Homo sapiens: one gene and its partners. The protein of the gene in region 3 interacts with the protein of the main gene of each other region in a pairwise test. Each region holds a gene or a part of one and is shown on either strand. Other genes may lie near its edges. The genes, in order: CCND2, PSMB9 and ABCB5.

What was found.
Region 1: the proteins of ABCB5 (region 3) and CCND2 come close enough for resonance energy transfer, tested with the Homo sapiens proteins (one large-scale study listed by BioGRID).
Region 2: the proteins of ABCB5 (region 3) and PSMB9 interact in a two-hybrid assay, tested with the Homo sapiens proteins (one study listed by IntAct).

The regions. Positions count from the first base shown.
Region 1 is NC_000012.12:4,283,632-4,287,283, forward strand, and holds part of CCND2 (G1/S-specific cyclin-D2), read left to right. Parts: intron 1-3,652. UniProt on the Homo sapiens protein: Regulatory component of the cyclin D2-CDK4 (DC) complex that phosphorylates and inhibits members of the retinoblastoma (RB) protein family including RB1 and regulates the cell-cycle during G(1)/S transition.
Region 2 is NC_000006.12:32,857,040-32,860,351, forward strand, and holds the end of PSMB9 (proteasome subunit beta type-9 precursor), read left to right. Parts: intron 1-223; coding exon 224-355; intron 356-965; coding exon 966-1,095; intron 1,096-1,324; coding exon 1,325-1,466; intron 1,467-2,365; coding exon 2,366-2,493; 3' UTR 2,494-2,812; downstream 2,813-3,312. UniProt on the Homo sapiens protein: The proteasome is a multicatalytic proteinase complex which is characterized by its ability to cleave peptides with Arg, Phe, Tyr, Leu, and Glu adjacent to the leaving group at neutral or slightly basic pH.
Region 3 is NC_000007.14:20,614,143-20,618,534, forward strand, and holds the start of ABCB5 (ATP-binding cassette sub-family B member 5), read left to right. Parts: upstream 1-1,524; 5' UTR 1,525-1,695; intron 1,696-4,392. UniProt on the Homo sapiens protein: Energy-dependent efflux transporter responsible for decreased drug accumulation in multidrug-resistant cells. Specifically present in limbal stem cells, where it plays a key role in corneal development and repair.

The DNA of each region.
Region 1 (3,652 bases), on a different chromosome or scaffold from region 3:
AAGCATGCAGCCCACAGCAGAGCTGCCCCTGGCGCCTGTGGGTCCAGCTGGGATTCCCCTAAGGTGTGTCCTTTGCCTCCACCATTTTGCCAGGAGGGAGGCGGGAATGTCGGGTGTTCCTGGTTATCTGGGCATCGTTCCTTGGCTCGGGTGAACTGCATCTCAATGAATTGTGGAATGTGCTGGGTTAGAGTTGCCAACTTCTCTCTTCCATTCGCTGAGTGTTCATGGGGTTCTTTTCATTCCCCTGTGGGGCTGCACTTTCTCCCAGTTCTGCAAAGCAGCAGGAGGCTTTGGGGACTCGATGATGTCATTTCTGGGACACATACACAACTGGATAGTGACAGATTCTCCAGGAAGCACAGAGCCCTCATTCTTCCTGGCCTGCTTGGCCTGCTCCCTGCATCTGCCTGCAATCCAGGGATGCTGGGCGCCTTTCTCCTCATCCCTCCAGACGCTGGAGAGCATCTCCAGTCGGAACTCCCCACCACAGTCCTGCAGGAAGTACTAGGAGTGAGAGCAGAGGAGGGGCAGGTTGGGGAGGATGCTGGCTGACATTCATTGCTTACCTTGAACCAGGCACTGTGCTTTTACAAGGATTATTTTAAGTGAATCCTCAGAACAGCACTACAACGTGGGTATTGCTGTTGTCATTATTTGCAGATCAGAAAATGAAAACTCAGAGAGGTCAGGTAACTTGCTCATCTTCACACACTTGGTAGGTGGTGGGATGGAGATTCCACCTCCTTCTGATTCCAGAGCTAATACTCTGAACCAGTGAGCTGTGTTCTCCAGAGGTCTGCTTTGGTTGGAGGGGAGCTGGAGCCCTAGGCCCTGGGACGGCCTCTGTTGCCCATGGCAAGGCGTGTGGCTGCTCCTGCTCTCTTCAGATCTCCAGATGCAGCAACCTGGAGAAAGGCCCTCCTGGGTCTGGTGGGGACTGGGGCAGGAGTGGAGGCTGCCCAAGCTCCGTGCACTCCACGTTCCAGCTTGGAGCTTTTTGAGTCTACTCTCCAAATCCTTCCCATCTCCCTGAAGAGTCTTCTGAGAAGTGTCTCAAATGCTCCTCTTCACTCAAGAGCCTCCTTTCTTTTTTTTTTTCTTTTCTTTTTCTTTTTTTTTTTTGAGACAGTCTTGCTCTGTCACCCAGGCTGGAGTGCATGGCACAATCTCTGCTCACTGCAACCTCCAACTCCCGGGTTCAAGTGATTCTCTTGCCCAAGCCTCCAGAATAGCTGGGATTACAGGCGCGTGCCACCATGCCTGGCTAATTTTTGTATTTTTAGTACAGACAGGGTTTCACCGTGTTGGCCAGACTGGTCTCGAACTTCGGACCTCAGGTCATCTGCCCACCTCGGCCTCCCAAAGTGCTAGGATTACACTGTGAGCCACTGCGCCCAGCCTTCAAGAGCCCCCTTTCTTTGAGAAGTTTCTTCAGAAGTTATCCATATAGTAGTACAGACCTAGCCATTATAGCACACCATCCTCTACTATCTAATGCATTGATGCCCAGCCTTAAGAAGTCTGAATATTGTACGTTTTGGGGGGAGTCCTCCATGCTGCCTGGAACAGGGAGGAGCACATTGTCATGAGTCGATCAGAATGGATCGCTGATCGGTTCATTGCCTCTCTCTCTGCTGCAGGAGGAAGGATCTCAGGAAGTCACCAGCATCTCACCTCTCCAGGTGGGCAATTAACGATGGCGAGGGCACACCCTCACCCCTGAGCGTGCCTTCTGCACCAGCATATTGCTTGTTGGCATTTTTGATCAAGAGACTTAACAGACTGCTGAGAAATTTGTACCTGGTTTTTATTTGTTAAAATAATATTACGTACAAATTTTACAAACTCATCTGTGTTTCTCCCACCTAACAGAACAGCTTTTATTTTCCGTGCATCCTTCCAGTTCATCCATAGGCATATATGTATGTATTTACCCATGGTTGTAATCTTCATCGTCGCATGCATGCATGCAATTTGGTTTTCCGCTTCCTTCTTCTGAGTGGATATTGTGACCATTTCTCCATCCTGTCATAGCGACAAAGCTGATGGTTTCCAGGAATGGCTGCATTGGGTAGGTGGAGCTTTCCACAGTTGAGGGTGGGGGTTGGCTAATTACAGCTAGGAAGCTAGTGCACAGATGAAATGATGTTTGATTTTTTTGTTTTTCTCTCTGTTCAGTATCCCCTACCAGTAGAGAGGGGGATGTCCTTGAGAGTGGTCCTGGGGCAGCCCTGGTGCCACGGGGAAGTAGCGCCGCTCTGTGGAGAGGGCTGCTTTGTGAATTTGCCGGCTGGTAGACACCGTGATCCATTCTATTGTCTCCTCATTGTTCTTCTCCTTGGGAGTCATTCCCATTCCAGATCCTCAAGTAAGAGCAAAGTAGACCTGTAAGGCACCTGGGAGGTTATCCTGCTTACTATCTTTAAACTCTTGACCTAAGCCATGTAGGAAGAAACACATTTTATAACACAACTCAGGATACTTGTACAAGTATATCAAACTGATACAAAAGTTTCTCCGAACAATATTTACTCTTAACGACATACGGTGAGCCTGATACTTTCTATCCTACTCTATTTGGTTAAAGGAGAACAACAACAGAAAGTGCTGGTCACGACCCACAAATGCATTTCATGACCCATTAATGAGTTGCAGCTAGAAGTTAGAAAAACACTTATCTCACCCAACCCGTTATTAGACAAATGGGAAACCAAGCCCTTGGAAAGAGGAAGTGACTTGCCCACAGTCCCACGTCTGGACCTAGCTGGAGGGCTGATGTTGCCTCAGTATTTGACTAACCTGGAGGAGAGGTGGGGCATGCTCAGGGATCCCGAGGAAGATGCTCGTCTTCTGTGTAGCGGGCAACAGAGGGCAGCACGGCCGCCGTCCTCGTCTCCAGCGGCGTCTCTCCTCTGGCTGTGGGAACACACTGCTCCTTTGGTGCCACTCTGAGCTGCTGAGAGGCAGTCAAGTTCATGCACATAGTGCTCCCCAATTCTGTGGGATTGGACAGTGTCCCCAAGAGGACTCCCCTGAAAATCTTCTTAGTAAAACAAAAAGGGAGGTAGAGTCTCCCTGTGCAACCGGTGCACCTGTTCCCCCTATGCCTGCTGGCTTCCAGAAGTTCATTCGTATGCCAATAATAAGAGTTGGTTTTGCTAGCAGTGGGACAGCAGAGATGGGCATGTGTGAGGTGTGCTTCCCGGTCTGAGGCCTATGGCAGAGGGAAGGGAGGGCCGGGGATACTTGCCTGCCTCTTCCCTGGCAGATGCTCCCACCCGGGCCTTTGTGGGCCCAGGGCCATGGGCCGGCTGCCCCGCTTGTGTTATGAATGTCACAGGGGGGAGCTAACGAGGTTATTGGGCAGAGAAACACTCTCCTGTGACCCATGTGGAAGAGACCTACAGCAGAGCAAGAGGCAGGGAGGCTGGCTTTGTCACACTGTTCATGGCGACAGAGAAGGCGTAGGAGGGGCGGGTGGACAGCAGGCGTGGGCGCAGCACCATTATATACGTCCCTCAAGAGGTGGAGATGGTGAGAGGGCAATGGAGAAAAAGCCAAGGAGACAGGCAGATGGCCAGGTTTGCTCTGCGTTCATGATGGGAGGGGAGGGCTGTGCTTGGCTCAGGGATCCACGGTGTCTAACAAT
Region 2 (3,312 bases), on a different chromosome or scaffold from region 3:
AAATACAAACATTAGCTGGGCTTGGTGGTGGGTGCCTGTAATCCCAGCTATTCGGGAGGCTGAGGCAGGAGAATCACTTGAACCAGGGAGGCGAAGTTTGCAGTGAGCCCAAGATTGATCCACTGCACTCCAGCCTGGGTGACAGAGTGAGACTGTCTCAAAAAAAAAAAAAAAAAAAAAAACCTGAGTTTTAACTTGGTGACTGTTGACTCCCTCCTGACAGCGAGGCGGTGGTGAACCGAGTGTTTGACAAGCTGTCCCCGCTGCACGAGCGCATCTACTGTGCACTCTCTGGTTCAGCTGCTGATGCCCAAGCCGTGGCCGACATGGCCGCCTACCAGCTGGAGCTCCATGGGTATGAAGCTCTGGAGTTCTGACTCCCCACCCACTAGAGCTCCCCCAACCTGCATGAATCCCTGTACAGTGTGCTGTTCCAGGAGCTGGACACTGGGAAATGGAAAAGTCTTGTTTCGGCTCTTGCTGGCACTTGAATCTGTCAGTTTCTGCATCTGTAAAGTGGAGATAATATAGTACCTCATGAGACGGTTATTTTGAGAACCACATTCTATATGTGAACACAGTTTAAAAGCTGTAAATCACTATCCTGATATAAATAATCAGGAAGAAGGTGATATTGTGACCCACCATAATATCAGGCAGTTACCATACGAGAAATCAAGGTCGTTGGGACGGAAGTAACCTTATCTGCTTTTCCCCATAAGAGCAGGGTCCTTGCAGCCAAAAGAAAGTTATGTGGGTGGGGCTGAGCAAAAGAGTGAGCAATTGAAAGCTTCTTACCAGTTGGTGGTGTGGGACTCTGGTTCCCCTGTACATGTGGGAGGGAGGCTGCAGTTTGAGCTATTGCAGTTACAGTTTTCAGGGGTCGTTTAGCAGGGATGATGGTAACAGTATAGGAGAATGAGACTTAAAATTCTATCAACCTTTATTCCTAATATTTCCCTCAGGATAGAACTGGAGGAACCTCCACTTGTTTTGGCTGCTGCAAATGTGGTGAGAAATATCAGCTATAAATATCGAGAGGACTTGTCTGCACATCTCATGGTAGCTGGCTGGGACCAACGTGAAGGAGGTCAGGTGAGTTTCTCCCAAAGCACTCTCTCCTCTGGGCTTCCCCACTCTCCTGCAGAGGAAGATGGAAGTCCTATGTCATTCTAGCAATGAGTTCCAAGGACACTACCTCTGAAAGCATAGTACTTTGGGGATATGAGATACCAGGGCTTCATTGCAGGGTGCAGAGACCACTTAATGTCTCAGTGGGAAGGAAGGGCTTGATGATTCTTTAACCTGAGGATCCCTTTCCCAGGTATATGGAACCCTGGGAGGAATGCTGACTCGACAGCCTTTTGCCATTGGTGGCTCCGGCAGCACCTTTATCTATGGTTATGTGGATGCAGCATATAAGCCAGGCATGTCTCCCGAGGAGTGCAGGCGCTTCACCACAGACGGTAACCAGCCAAGTGGAAGGGTACCTGGGGAGGGCTTTGAAACATGGGAAGGAAGTAGATTATGAGGAACAGGAAGAGAAATACAGGGGTGGCCATTTAAGTTAATGCCGGGCCTGGTACACTTTTAAGAGTGAAAAGGGGCAGGACAAATGCAAAGCTCAATGGGGTTCTTGGGCAATACGGATAAACCAGGGCTGTTCTGAGTAAATCAAATGAGGATACACAGTCACTGTGAGAACCAGTGGTGTGCTAAGCACAGTGGCTCACACCTGTAATGCCAACAATTTGGGAGGCTGAGGCAGGAGGATTACTTGAGCCCAGGAGTTTGAGGCCAGCCTAGGCAAGATGGTGAAACCCTGTCTCCACAAAAAACAATAAAAAAAAGTAAAAAAAAAAATGAACTGGGCATAGTGGTGCACACCTGTAGTCCCAGCTACTCAGGAGGCTGAGGTGGAAAGATCATCTGAGCCGGGGAGATCAAGGCTGTAGTGAGCGGTGATTGCACCACTGCGCTGCAGCCTAGGTGACAGAGAGAGACCCTGTCTGGAGAAAAAAAAAAAAAAAAAGAACCAGTGGTGTGCTGAGGTGTGCTGAGGCTGGCTTGGGACCACTCATGAGAGCGGACTGTTAAATAGTCAAGGATTTGTGAACTGCTTAGCTATTTGTAACTTGCAATTCATCATAGCGGGAGCATTTACACCACGGACATCAGCAGATGCCACATATGGAAGCCTTTTTGTAAAAAAACTGATTTACCAGCACACCACTAAATATGCCTTCCTGGAAGATGAGTTTTGAGGTGAAAGTGGTAGTAGGCATATGGATGGAGGGGGAGTAAAAAGATTTTTGAAGCTAAGCCATCCTCTCTCTCCCTCTCTCCAACTTGAAACCCTCTGCAGCTATTGCTCTGGCCATGAGCCGGGATGGCTCAAGCGGGGGTGTCATCTACCTGGTCACTATTACAGCTGCCGGTGTGGACCATCGAGTCATCTTGGGCAATGAACTGCCAAAATTCTATGATGAGTGAACCTTCCCCAGACTTCTCTTTCTTATTTTGTAATAAACTCTCTAGGGCCAAAACCTGGTATGGTCATTGGGAAATGAGTGCTCAGGGAGATGGAGCTTAGGGGAGGTGGGTGCTTCCCTCCTAGATGTCAGCATACACTCTTTCTTCTTTTGTCCCAGGTCTAAAACATCTTTCCTAGAGAAAACAAAAGGGACTAAACTAGAAATATAAAGAGCCCTATACATGACAGGTGATCACGTACTGAATGATTTTGAAGTAGTACAAACAATAAAAATTCTCATTCCGCATCATCATGCGGTCCATGATGATGAGGCCGCAAGTGAGGTGATGGGACTCTTTCCTTTAAGGCTAAGACTGACAGATAGGCAAGACACCTACACACATGAGAATTAGCTAAGACTATCAGCAAACTCGCATGTAAAAGAATTCCTTTCATAATGCATTCATTCATATTAAAGGGCAATACATGAAAAATGCTTAAATATTTTGGGGCACTTGTGAATTTCAAAGAATAATGACAATAACCAAAAGAAGCTACATTTGTGGCATTGGCTAAATGTTTTATAAATTTTATCTCTTAAAATTCAAACCAAAAAACCCCCTGTATTCACACCTGTAATCCCAGCACTTTGGGAGGTCAAGGCGGGAGGATTGCTTGAGCCCAGGAGTTAGTGACCAGCCTGGGCAACATAGTGAGAACCCCATCTCTACAAAAAAATTTAAAAATTAGTCGGGTGCGGTGGTGCATGCCTGTAGTCCCAGCTGCCTGGGAGGCTGAGTGGGAGGATCGCTTAGGCCTGGGAGTTTGAGGCTACAGTG
Region 3 (4,392 bases):
GAGATATGTGTGAAATCCAAAAAAAGTCAAACTCCTAGAAGCAGACAGTAGCATGGTGGTTACCAGAGACTAGGAGGTGGAGGAAATGGGGAGATGTTGGTCAAAGGGTACAAACTTCCAGTTATAAGATGGGTACAGGATGGTGACTACAGTTAATAATTCTGTATTGTATATTTGAAATTTGCTAAGAGAGTAGATCTTAAGCGTTCTCACCAGACACGCACACACACAAACACGTAAATATGTGAAGTGATGGATGTGCTCATTGCAGTAATCATTTCACAATGTATATGTATATCACATCATCATGTTGTAAACCTTAAATATAGACAATAGTATTTGTCAATTATACATATTAAAGCTGAATAAATAAAATAAATTAATTAAAATTATATAAAACTCAAAATTCAGCTCCCTCACTAGGCACATTAAAAGCGCTCAATAGCCACATATGTGTAGCGGCTAGGATATTGGATGTGTGGAGAATATCTCAATTATTGCAGAAAGTTCTGTTGGATGGCTCTGCTCTAGAAGTAACACTTTTAGCTACATTACACCACTTCTGTGCATTTAGATGACATCATGAGATTTTTAAAGCAAAATTAATTATTCCTTCTGTGCATATGACAATTGCAAGTTTATCTCTAGGTTGGCAATTTTCCTAATTATTAGTGCCACATTTACATCTGTTTGCCAGATATTTTCACTTGGACACCAATATCAACCCAAATTTGCATATTTAAACTGAATGTTACCATTTCCCCAAAACCAATTCTGTCTCATAACTTCTCTATTACCATCTTTACTACTCTTTTGTTACAACTTTTAAAAGTTTGATCGCTGAACTTATATTTTTTTTATTTCTTCTTCCTTGTCCTCTTTACCTACCTACCGCCTTAAAAATACCTCTCAAATAGTCTTACTTACTGCTATCAAACTAGATTTTAATGAGTCTACTTAAATCTTGTGTTTCCCCAAGTCCTTCCAGTATATCCATGGCTGTAATGTCAAATAATCAGGTTAATTGTACCAAATACCAATGGCTTTGTCTCTTTCATTCCAGAAAATTATAAAAGTTGTCCTAAAAATTGGTTCAGTGCCTTTTACAATCGTATGTACCTTATCTCTCTCTCCATTTCTGCATGAACAGTCCATCCTATCCAAACCGTTCTCATTTCTCTACCATGAGATAATTCACCTTGCATTCCTAAAACTATGCCCTTGTTCCTCCTCCACATTTTTCTACTTACTGAAACCTTAGCCTTCCTCCAGAAACTAACCTCAGGGCCATCCTCATCTGTGGGCGAAACCATTTTAGATCACAATGTTCTTCCTCAGTCTTCTTAGATACTAGAATAGTCACTCTTTGTACTATTCATCACATAACGTCTGTCTTGCCAGGTATATTAGGTTCCCCTAGAGAAATAGAATCAATAGGCCGTGTGTGTGTGTGTGTGTGTGTGTGTGTGTGTGTGTGTATGTAGAGAGAGAAAGAGAAAACACGCTCATGTAATTGTGGTGACTGGCACTTCCAAAATCCACAAGCCAGACTAGAAGGCTGGAAATTCTGGCAAAAAATTGATACCTTGTATCTGAAAGCTTTATCCTATCCTCTTCAGAAGACTTCAGTCTTTTCTCTTAAGGACTTCAACTGACTGGATGGGGCCCACTCAAAACAGCATCTAAGGAATTAAAGTAAGTCAAAGCAAAAGTATTAGAGATTATGAAAACAATTGAAGCTTGTGAAGAATATAAAACACTTCTCCATCTTAGAAAGAATAGTTTGTGGTAAAGATGGAAACAAAAATGTGTGTGTATGAAACTTTTTCATAGTCAGAAATGATCATCCTACTATTATTTTGGTCATTTTAAAGCATCCATACAATTCATATCTTCTTTCTTTCTTTCCCTGTGACAGGGTCTCACTCTGTCACCCAGGCTGGAGTGCAGTGGCACGATGTTGGCTCACTGCAACCTCCGCCTCCAGGGTTCAAGAGATTTTCCTGGCTCAGCCTTCTGAGTAGCTGGGATTGCAGGTGCCCAGCACCATGCCCAGCTAATTTTTTTATTTTTAGTAGAGATGGGGTTTCACCTTGTTGGACAGGCTGGTCTCGAACTCCTGACCTCAGATGATCCAGCCGCCTTGGCCTCCCAAAGTGCTGGGATTACAGGCATGAGCCACTGCGCCCAGCCATATCTTCTTTCATCTAACCAAAGATCCCATGTTTTCCATCCAACCAGTATATCTTAGCTATTTGTCAGATTATTCTTACCAAGGATGCTTGAACGTTAAGTGCATCTCATGATTTCTTCTCACATGGGTATTTTGTCCTATGATTTCCATCTTGGTACATGAACCTAGAAATATTTTTTAAGGCAAAAGTCCTTATAAATAAAATATTCTGTCTATTTTTACATTTTCTTGTATGTTCCATAGTACTTGCCATGATAGCATCCACACAGCTGTCAATAAGTAAGAATTGGCTGACTGATAGATTTTGTGTAGAGCAATTAAGATGTTCAGAGTTCTTCTCTCATGTTATCTACTTAGTGCTGGATATTACTACCTGATTATCTCACAAATATCTCAAACTTGACAAGTTTCAAGTTAAATTTATCTTCCTTTTGAAACATTGGGTAACAGAGAGGAACATGGGGGCAGCCATCATAGTCAACCTGTAGCTTTCCATACAGTGAGGACCTGCCAACTGGCTCACAAATTGCTTTGACCTTGTGTCGCTTTGTCTCAGTGCACTTTTCTCTACTATCTAAATAGTATTCCTTCTGCCTGGGATAGTCTTTTTGATCTTTATATAGCAACCTCCTTTTATAATTCAGATTGCAGCTTAAACATTATCTTCTACAAGGGGCTTTCTCTGACCAGATGTATATAAATACCACATTACTCTTCATAAAATTACCCTGTTTTAATTATATACCAAAAACTGACCACTCTCTAATTTTCCTTATTTATGTATGCCTTTTTTTAAAATTGTGACTCTCCCTGTAATGGAGTCTAAGCTCTATGACAGCAAAGATGTCTAGGCTGTTCAGTGCTTAAAACAGTACCTGGCACAGTATATATCTATAGAATGAGTAAATTTTTTTAAAAAATCATCTAATGAGCTTGTTTAAAATGTAGATTTTTTTCCAGTGCATTTCTTTAGATTATCATTCAGTACATGTGGGGCAAGGCCTAGGTAGGTGTCTGATATCTTTAACATGCACTCCAGGTGATTCTGATGCCAGAGGTCCTTTGACAATACTTTAAAACTGTGCTATTAACAGCAGATAAAAACAATATGTTGTCAGCACTAAGGTGTATTTTAAACTTTATTTTTATAATCTTGGATTTAGGAAGATAAAATTTCCTCTAGATAAGTAGTGCCTTCTGTTTCTCAAGGCTTTGTGCTAGATACTATATAGTCATGTTTCTCAAAATTTGATATGCATTACAAACCACTTCGACAATCTTGTTAAAATGCAGATTCTATTCAGAAGTTTTAGAGTGAGACCCAAAAATCGCATTTTTATAATGGATTAAAAATATATAATCTAACTGTATGCTGTCAATAAGAGAATCATTTTAGATCTAAAGGCAAATAGGTTAAAATCAAAAGGATAAAAAGAGATAATCCTGCAAATATTAACCAAAAGAGAGCTGGAATGGTTATAGTAATATCCAGACAAGTTACACCTCAAGTCAAAACCTTTTATAAGAGACAACAAAGAACATTAGATAGTGATAAAACAGTCAAATCACCAAGAAGATATAACAACTATAAGCACACAGCCACAAAATATCACAGCTCCTAAATAAACACTGACAGAAGCAGAGAGAAATAAAAACTTCTGTAATAATGGTTAGAAACTTTAAGATTACCCTTTTTTGCTAACAGCTTTATTGAGATATAATTCACATATCATAGAATGTACCCATTTAAGATGTACAATTCAAAAGTTTTTGTATATTCATAGAGTTGAGCAGCCATCACCACATTCAATTTATAGTGGTTTTATCATCTTGAAAAGAAACCCTGTATCCCTCTCATTAGCTGTCATCTCTATTTCTCCTCCACCCAGCAACTACTAACTTACTTTTTTCTCTATGGATTTGCCTGCTCTAGGCACTTCATATTAATGGAATTATATAGTATGTTGTCTTTCGTGATTGGGTTATTGTACTTACCATAATACTTTCAAGGTTTATTTATGTAGCATGTATCAGTATTTCATTTATATGGCTATCTTCACCTTTTATATAATTTCAACTTTTATTTTAGATTTAGAGCTTACCTGTGCAGGCAGGTTTGTTACATGAGTTCATTGTGTGACACTGAGGATTGAGGTGTGAATAATCCCTTCGCCCAGGTAGTGAGCATAGTACTCGGT